Linked DNA regions of Homo sapiens: region 1 is linked to region 2. The links come from fine-mapping of genetic effects on gene expression. A gene starts in region 2. The other region holds a variant in brackets. All regions are shown on one strand. Distances are from middle to middle. Region 1 overlaps LRIG1 (leucine rich repeats and immunoglobulin like domains 1). Region 2 holds the start of SLC25A26 (solute carrier family 25 member 26).

Evidence for each region. PIP is the estimated chance that this variant, and not a neighbour inherited with it, causes the effect. A credible set is the group of variants that fine-mapping cannot tell apart.
Region 1: its variant is the best candidate, but not a certain one, in a credible set for the expression of SLC25A26 in whole blood (INTERVAL, PIP 0.76).

Annotation. Positions count from the first base shown.
Region 1 is chr3:66,380,704-66,385,096 of GRCh38, forward strand. LRIG1 (leucine rich repeats and immunoglobulin like domains 1) reads right to left here. Exons shown (of 19, transcript NM_015541.3): 14 at 3,288-3,569; 15 at 2,279-2,698; 16 at 1,570-1,695; 17 at 776-928; 18 at 1-158. Among named protein-coding and RNA genes, the nearest start is that of LRIG1, 120 kb to the right of the region's middle. RefSeq lists enhancers at 1,992-2,493, 2,494-2,993. The variant A/G (reference allele first, on the strand shown) is at 2,185.
Region 2 is chr3:66,218,973-66,223,365 of GRCh38, forward strand. SLC25A26 (solute carrier family 25 member 26) reads left to right here and starts at 2,029. Exons shown (of 10, transcript NM_001379210.1): 1 at 2,029-2,155. The coding sequence starts at 2,123. RefSeq lists enhancers at 1,642-1,801, 1,972-2,031, 2,153-2,652.

The DNA of each region.
Region 1 (4,393 bases), 160 kb after region 2:
TGGAGAATGCTCTTGGTCACTCCCACCCGGCTCCGGGCCATTTGGCGCACTTGGCTGTGCGCTGTCTCTGGACACAGGCTGGGGGTGGAAGGCTTGTCCCCTGGAGTAACAGTCCACTTCGGTGTTGCAGTCACTGCATACGACCCGGCCACCGTGTTCTGAAGGACAGCGCCAAAGATGGGTTAGAGTCACTGCTGTGGGAGTCTTCGTCCCCACACAGAGGACAGGCTGCTCAGCTCCACTGTGCAAGGTGAGAACCCTGACTGCAAACACTGTATGCATGCTTCCTCTTTTCCCCAACTATGTCCCCAGAGAAAGGACTGGGCAAACACCAAGTCACTCATGAACTGTGGGGTCTTTCGTGTTTACAGTGAATTTCATAGACAATGTAGTCTTACTGCTTCACGGGGGAAAAGCCATTAGCCTTAGGTACCATGCAGTGTTGGGTCTTTTCAACAATTAGAAATAAGCCTCAAAATAGCCCTGGTGAAAAAGTGCTGACTGAAACTCTATACTTCGTTTGTGCCTTGCCCCTTATTTAAGTTGCTTATACATCTAGAAAATTCATGCTCAGGCTTACCATGGCGTAGATTTATTTAGGAGAAACTATCCTGGAATTAAGAGAGCCAGGCCTGAGCTTCCCCTGTATATACTGAATACCAAATTTGGAGACAGCTGTGGACTAGGAATGTGTCTCCCCCTTTGATGTAGTGACTAGGTCAGCCCAAATTTCCATTTCAGAAAGAAACTACTTCCAATGGGAAGCATCTCATACCCATCTTATGTGGCCCAGGTGTCCCTTCAGCTTTCTCCATCGCTTTCCACGGCTCTTTGTGATACGCAGACCCAGCACAGAGCTTTGGCTGCCTGCAGGCAACGCTGTGAGTGTCGGGCTCTGGAAAGTGGCTTGCATCTCTTGGACACACACCTGCAAGTGGATTCCAACACGATTAGAAACTCTGGGCTTGGTATTTCACAGTAAGCCTTATGAAAGGAATGAGCAAGGCCGCTAGAACAGTCATTTTTTTTAAAAAGTTCTTCAGAGCGGTGGGGCTGCTGGTCTGGCAAGCAGCGTGTTTTCTGCTACTACTTCCCAGCAGGCAGGCTGGCCTTGTGAAATGAGCAGCTGTCTCAGGGTGAGCCTCTACAGTCTCAGGCAAGTGCTCAGAGGCCCCCACCGTTGGAAGTACCTCATCCTGGTGACAGCTTTCCAGTGTAAGACTGGATCACAGAGCAGACCTGGGCACGTTCCCCATGTAAGGAATGGGTTGGCTGGGTTCATGCACCGTAATGCCCTTTCCAGCTGCTACTCCAGGCAAGCCTACTTTATCCTGCCAGGGAGATGCTAAGCCCAATCCAGTGGCTTCCTGAGGGGACAGGACTTTAAAACCTTGCAGAACTCATGAAGACTGGGTCCAAAATAGCAGCCCTTAGTCATACCGCCTTCTACTTCACCAAGTTTGCCCCATCTAATGCCAGGTACCTGCCCTGTAAAGACCTGGAGGCCACCTCCAGCACCCAGAGACACAGTCACAGCAGAGCTCTGCTTCACAGTTACTGAGGCCTTACCATTGCTCTCAATGTGCCCATTGGCCTGAGGGCCACCCTCGGTCCTGACCACGGTTTCTTGTCGGTCAGAAAGGGTCCCCTGAGAAGAGAGGTAGCTTGGAACATCTGGTGGCACGACGGTTTCATCTGCAAGGAGACAGAACAAATAGAACACCAGGGTCTCAGTGACAAGAAATGCAGACACACGTTCACTGTCAAGCTCAGAAAGGGGATCCTCCCAGTGACGACCATCAGCGCTGTGCAGAGAGATGACATGGAGTCCATGTACGCAACAGGCCCTCCCAGAGCCTGCTCAGCTTTACTCTACACCCAGCGTGAAGAGCGCAGCCAGCAGATGCCAGACGCCACAAGAAGTGGAGACCAGTGATGGAAAGCCGGGGCTCACAGAAGTACCGCACTGTTTCAGGAACAACCTACTACGTGGCAGCAGGGCCTGTGCATAGGCGGCCTCTGAGTTAGCAAGGAGAGGGAAAACTGCATGGTGCGTCAGTTACTTGTATTTGTGAGTATTCCTGTTTAAGGTTAAATTTGAGAGTATTCCTGTTTAAGGTTAAGTTCCTCAAAGTTAAAATGGAATTAGTGGGACTAAACCCTCAGGAGTTCTGAACACAGTGC[A/G]ATTCTTTCAAAAGCCACTGGAACCCGGCCCAGTTCCCCAGCATCACTGCCATTCCTCCCTCCTTGAAAGTCAGCTCCGCTGGCAGGGCCTGACCTGTGTTGGTGACACTGTACTCTTCACTCTTCTTCCTGGTCTGGTAGATGATGCACACCCAGACCAGTGACGTCAGGACGATGCTGCTCACGACAGCAATGGTGAAGATGCCTACCGTGGTCCCATCCTTCCTGCAGCCTGCTGCGGGCAGGACGCTCAGCTGGCTGTGAGCTCGCTCCGTGCCCAGGGTGTTGGACATCTCACAGGTATATCGGCCCGCATCCTCTGCCACCACGTTCTGAACCACCAGGAGCTGGTTGTCAGGGGTCAAGTGGTGCCGCTCAGTGAGGCTCAGCGGGCGGTCCCCCTTGAACCAGGTGATGCGGGGCGGAGGGTTCCCCGTGGCTTTGCATTGGAGGGCCACTGTTTCTCCCACAGATACCACACGGTCTTCCAAGGGGACCACCAAGGATGGGGTCTCTACAAGAGAGCAACAGAGATCTTAGTCATTCTCAGGGCCTCCGTTGCTCTGGCTCTGCCCGGTCTTCTGGACAACGGACAATCCAACATATCAATGAGATGCATCTGAGATTCTGTCTCAGAGTGGCAAGCTTTGGAGAAGACCCTTCAACTCATTGACTGAGTCATCTCCATGCTGGGAGTGGCTTCCACAGGGACAGTGAACCTCTGCTGACAAAAGCCCCTGCTATTCCCTAACTGTCCTGTGTCAGGCCTGTGTCCTTATTCTTGACCAAGCCCACATCCATCCTGTCCAATTCTTAAAATGTTCTGTAGCTCTTGACCAAGCCCACATCCATCCTGTCCAATTCTTAAAATGTTCTGTAGCTAAACCCTATGAAGACTCTTAATTCACCAGCTATCATTTCTTTTAAAGAGATAGAAACACTTGTTTAAGAAAAATTAACTCAACTCAAAAAGCAGCCCCAAATTTCAAACAGGGTCGAAAGGCCCACAACGCATACCACCCCTGGCCACACAGAGCATTTGAGAGTCTCTCTCTCTCGCTCACACACACACACACACACACACAGTAGAGCAATAGGCAAACCTAGGACAGTCAGGGTGGCATTAGCTGAAATAGAACCGGCTGAGTTCTGAGCAGTACAGCTGTAAACCCCTGCGTCATCTATTTTCACATCAGTGATGAAAAACACGTCGTCATCCGGCATGACATGCATGCGTCGCTCACGGGCAGCGGGGAAATCCGTGCCTCCATCCTTCTGCCAGGCAATCTGAGGGTTTGGGTGACCTGTGGCAGCACATTCGAGGCGGGCCATGGTGGTGGTCCGGATGGTTATGTCGTGGGGCGTTTTGGTGAATGATGGCAACACTGGAAAACATACGTATACAGGGTCGGGTTACGGGACAGCTAGATGCAAAACCAGGAAGTCCTCTGGCAAACACCTACCTGTCACTGTGCCCAGTGCCAGTTCACTTCTTTTCTCCCAATGTCTGCCCAGGACCACTCCTGCCACCTGTGAATCAGGAACCCCCAGCTTCTCCCACCACAGTTGGAACACTTCCATCCCATCAGCCTTGCATTGTACACCCTAGGCTGGCTATAGTCCCTTCAAAGCAAAGGCTTTTACTCTACATGGCAGTGCCTATACGGGAGTTGCAGGGGGTGCCCATCCACACTAGGTAGGCCTGATGCTTGCCTGCTTTACCCACCAAGAGAGAGGCTGTGGAGATGGAATTACAGAGGGAAGGTGGGCATGCCTCCACCTTGGGAGAGCAATGGGATGGCTCATCCGTTTGGATGGGTGTTCATGGGATGAATGGGATGGCTCATCCATTTGGATGGTTGTTCACCCAGGCTGTTCCTGCCCACTGCCGTATACCCAGGCAGGAAGCATTCAGCTTGCTAGCTTGCTCAGCCTAAAGATCGATGTCCTGACAGAGTGGGACGCATCCAGCCACGTGTCAGGCACCACCAGAGTTCCTGTCAACGTCAATTTTGGGGAGAGTCTAACAAACAGCTGAGTCTTTCGGAAGCTGTGAGGACTTGGAATAAGCCAAGACAACCCCACTACAGTGTGGTAAAGAAGGTGTTTCGCTGTGATCTGTGGGGGCTTAAAGAGCAAAGCAGATCCACCATTCTGATGATTCTCAAGCCAATTCTTTTTAACTAGAGAGTTAGTAATCAGGATAACC
Region 2 (4,393 bases):
ATGAAAACTGTGTGAGGTAATAGAAGTTTATCGTTGCTTTAGTCTGTTAAATTTTGGGGGTAATTTGTTACGCAGAAATAGACAAATAATACAGATTTTGGTACTTGGAGGTGGGCGCTACTGTAATTCCTAAACTGTGGGAGTGCCATTGGCACCAGGCAGTAGGTGAAAGGTGGGAAGACTGTGAGGGAAATGTCAGTGAAAGCTTATTAATAGAAACTTGATGGCCTTTGAGGAGGCTGCCGGTGAGGGTTTATAGGAATGTGAAGTAGGCAGGATTCTAAGGTGGCCCTCAAGATTCCTGGCCCCTAATGTGTTTTGCATAATCACCCCACTGATTGTGAGCAGGACCTGTGAGTATGACAGAACATTACCACCATGATTATGTTGTCACGTATGGCAAAAGGAATTTTTCAGATATAATTAAGGTCTCTAATCAGTTGACTTTGAGTTAATAAAAATGGAGATTATCCTGGGTAGGCCTGACCAAAGCACATGAGACTTTGAAAGACATTAATAGCAGCAACAGAGATTCTTCTGCTGGCATTGACAAAGTGAACTAGCATGTTTTGAGAGGGCCTACAGGCAGCTTAGGGAAAGGTATTCTGGGTAGAGAGAACAACATGGGCAAAATTAGGAGGCTTGGAAGTGTATAGTCTGTCTGTGTGTAGTCCGGCTAGTGGGAAGAGTGACAGGAGACACCAGCTGAGAGGTGTATACCATGCTAGGGAGCTGGACTGTCTCCATTGGCAGCAGAGGGGAGTTGTAAGCAGGGAAATAACATTACCATCACCTTTAGAGAGTACTTTCTATGAGCCAGGAACTAGGCTAAGAACTTGAGTGCATTATCTCATTTAATCTATTAATATAATAGTACCGCATGACAAAGTGACTATCATTATCGCCACTTTACAGGGGAGAAAACTTAATCTTGGAAAACTTATCCCCAAACCCAGCAGGTGATAGAATTTGAATTCCATCTAACACCTAAAGCTATTCTGCGTATCATTTCTAGATCATTTTACCTAGAAGAGAATAAGAATAATTATAAGAATAATTCTAGCAGTGTTATAGAATAGGGATTGAAGAAAGGCCAGGCAAGGAGCCTGCTCAGGTTATTATAACGGTTTTGAGGAAAGATGATGAGGGCATTAAGTATATTTTCAGTGCTTGCTCTGCTGTGTTCTCTGTAGCCACATTGAGTCGGTTACTTGTTGGAGCATCAGGAGCCTCTGTAAAATGAGGACACTAGTGTTGCTGACATCATAGGGTTGGTGAAAGGATTAAATGAAAAAATGTCTGTCAATCACTTAGCACCACGTCTGAGATGTAGTTGGCCCTTAATATATACAGAAGTTTACAAGGTATTTGTTTGTTTAATAAAGACAGGTCCACTCCAAGAAATGTTATTAAGTACTTAATAACGTGTGCTTTGAGGTGTACACATGAGTACAACAGCGAACAACATGAGCAGGTAAATAACTGAACAAACAAATAATTTTAAATGCAGTAACTCTGTAAAGAGAAATGGAGGATGCTAATTTTTAACTCCGGTCAGGAAACTTCTGATGTATTTTTCTATATCTTTATTTAATAATCTTCTGATAATGAGTTAATTTAATATAAACTCAGATAAAATTTTTTGACAAAACTAAGAGATAAACCAAAATGAAATATCCGATTAGGATCCCGAATCGCGCCTCCCGAGGTTAGTACTACCCCTCACGACTCCTCCCTCCGCCACAGCCACGCCTCTTCTGGGTTTACAGTTCAGAATCACGCCGGCCTCATTCTACCGCTGCTCTCTCCTGGATCTCGGCCACGGATCTTTTGCTCGCGAAAGTTCCTCCGTCTAGCTGCACACAACGCTGCTGCAGGAAACCGAGGTAAGGGATTTGCCGAGACTTAGCTCCACCACACTCCCCGAGGCCCCGCCCCTCCTCTCTGGCCCTCCCCTAGGCCCAGGTGTCTCGCGTTGCACGTGCAGTTGTTGTGGTTCTACGTCACGTGGTCCCGGAAGTTCAAGACAGACCCGCCTCAAACATGGCGGCGCCCAGCGCGCGAGGACGTGATCCGCTTCTGCTCCGGCTTGGATTGTAGCCTTGACGAGGTCTGAGCGACCATGGACCGGCCGGGGTTCGTGGCAGCGCTGGTGGTGAGTGCGGGGCGGTGGGGTGGGTTGCTCAGAGTGCCGGCGTCCGGCATTGGAGCCCGCGGGCGTTCTCTGCACTGGTTTTCTTCCGGTTTTGCGGGCTGGACTGTCCTCGGGTTACTGGCAGCCAGGTCTGAGAGGGAGCACGAGGCTCCCAGGCCACCGGCGGGCCAGGTGTTAAGGCTATGTCTGTACTGCCAGGTCATAAGAGCCAGGTGGGGGAAGGAAGGTGAGTCATTGTCTTTTGCACCCTCATTTACTTAAAAAAGAGCTTCTATTATACACTGTTAACTACTCTTTCATTAAATAGTGTAACTACTCTAGAGATCTTGGGAATTAAAGAAATGTATGTAACACAACAACAAAAACCTTACTCACATCGCTCCCAGCCCTTCTATTCAATACTACGTTTCTCATTTTGCTGCATCTCTTTTCAGTCTTAGAAAATGACATGTCCTTCTGTTCATTCAATACATAATCTGCTATTTCTGCTCCAAGCCTAGGCTTTGGAGAAATATTGGTGAGCACACATAGCTCATCGGGAACGCTGCGGAGTCAATAAACAGGCTTAGTATTTAATTCCGTAGCAGAAAACTACGAGAATCAACATGAATTAACAGAAAAAAAAGTCCTTTACCAAATATTTTGGAGCGTCTGGTAGAGGATACTAGATACAGCAGTTAACAAAACAGAGTTTGGCTGCCTACGTTTTCATTGTGTGGAATGGGCAGAGACAGACAAATAATTTTTAAAATGATTTTCATAGGGAAAATGGAGGCCCACAGTGATTTAGTCACTTAATTATCGAATTTTGGTGTTGCAGGTGTTGAGGATAACATGGTGAACAAGATAGACCTGCTCCTAAGGGTCAGGTGTTAGAGACAAAATAGTAAAATGACTGTTGGGATAAATAACAGGTGGGCTAGGTTCAGGGTGTTAGGGGAATATATGGAAGTAGGGATGTCTTAGCCAGACTTGTAGGATGATAGCTTTAAATCTAGATTTGTTGAAACTTGTATAAGGTAGGTCTTAGAAATATAAAGAAATAATGTTACTGATTTTTTTTTTTTTTTTTGAGAAGGAGTCTCACTCTTCGCCCAGGCTGGAGTGTGGTGGCGCCATCTCGGCTCACTGCAGGCTCCACCTCTCGGGTTCACGCCATTCTCCTGCCTCAGCCTCCCGAGTAGCTGGGACTGCAGGTGCCCGCCACTACGCCCAGCTAATTTTTTGGGTTTTTAGTGGAGACGGGGTTTCACCGTGTTAGCCAGGATGGTCTCGATCTCCTGACCTCGTGATCCCGCCCGCCTCGGCCTCCCAAAGTGCTGGGACTACAGGCGTGAGCCACGGCGCCTGGCCAATGTTACCGCTTTTAAGGAGCTTTCCTGTCTAGCTGGTGACACAGCAGCAGTAGTTTGTCAGCTAACATTCCTGTGCCAGGAACTGGGGTAAGCTCTTTACATACATTATCCCATTTAATTCTCACAATAATTGAACTCTTATCCTAATTTTCCAAATGAGGGAAGTGGGATACCAAGAGATTAGATAACTAGTTCAAAATCACACAAGTGAGATCCATTTCGTCTGTGTAAGTATTGGAGCTCATATTCCAACCCAGGTGATGTCACCTGGGAGTCGTGCCCTTATCTGCTTCTTGATACTCTCCGAAGTCAGCAAAGGTTGCAATTGCTAAAACACAGGTGAGTGCTGCAGTTAACAAAAGAATGGATTTAGTATATACTTAATTAAAGTATGATACACATGCAGTAAAGTATACTTTTTTCCCAATGTATTTATAGAGGGTAAAATTAGAATCAATAGGTGGAAGTTTCAAGAAACTAGATTTCATTCCAGGTAAAGGAAAAACATTTTATTTATGCATTCAGCACACAATTTTTCTTCCATCTATTCTGCCCACTGGGTATTGTGGTAGGCTTTGTAGATACAGTGGCAGATAACCCCATTTCAAGTAGGGAAGAAAGGCCAGCAGATAAAACAGTTGCAATGAATAAGTGCTATGAAAGAAATGAACTGAAGATGCGACAGAGTAGGCAAATATTGGTGAACCTCTTAGATGGAGTGACCAAGGAAAGCCACGAAGTGGTAACATTTCAGCTAAGACCTAAAAGATAGGAAGGGGCTTGAATTTTTGATGATCAGAGTGGGAGGTTCAGTCATGGGGAATGGCTCAAGTGGAAAGAGCTTAGAGTTTTCAAGTGGTGAGGCCTAATGGGTAAGGATAGC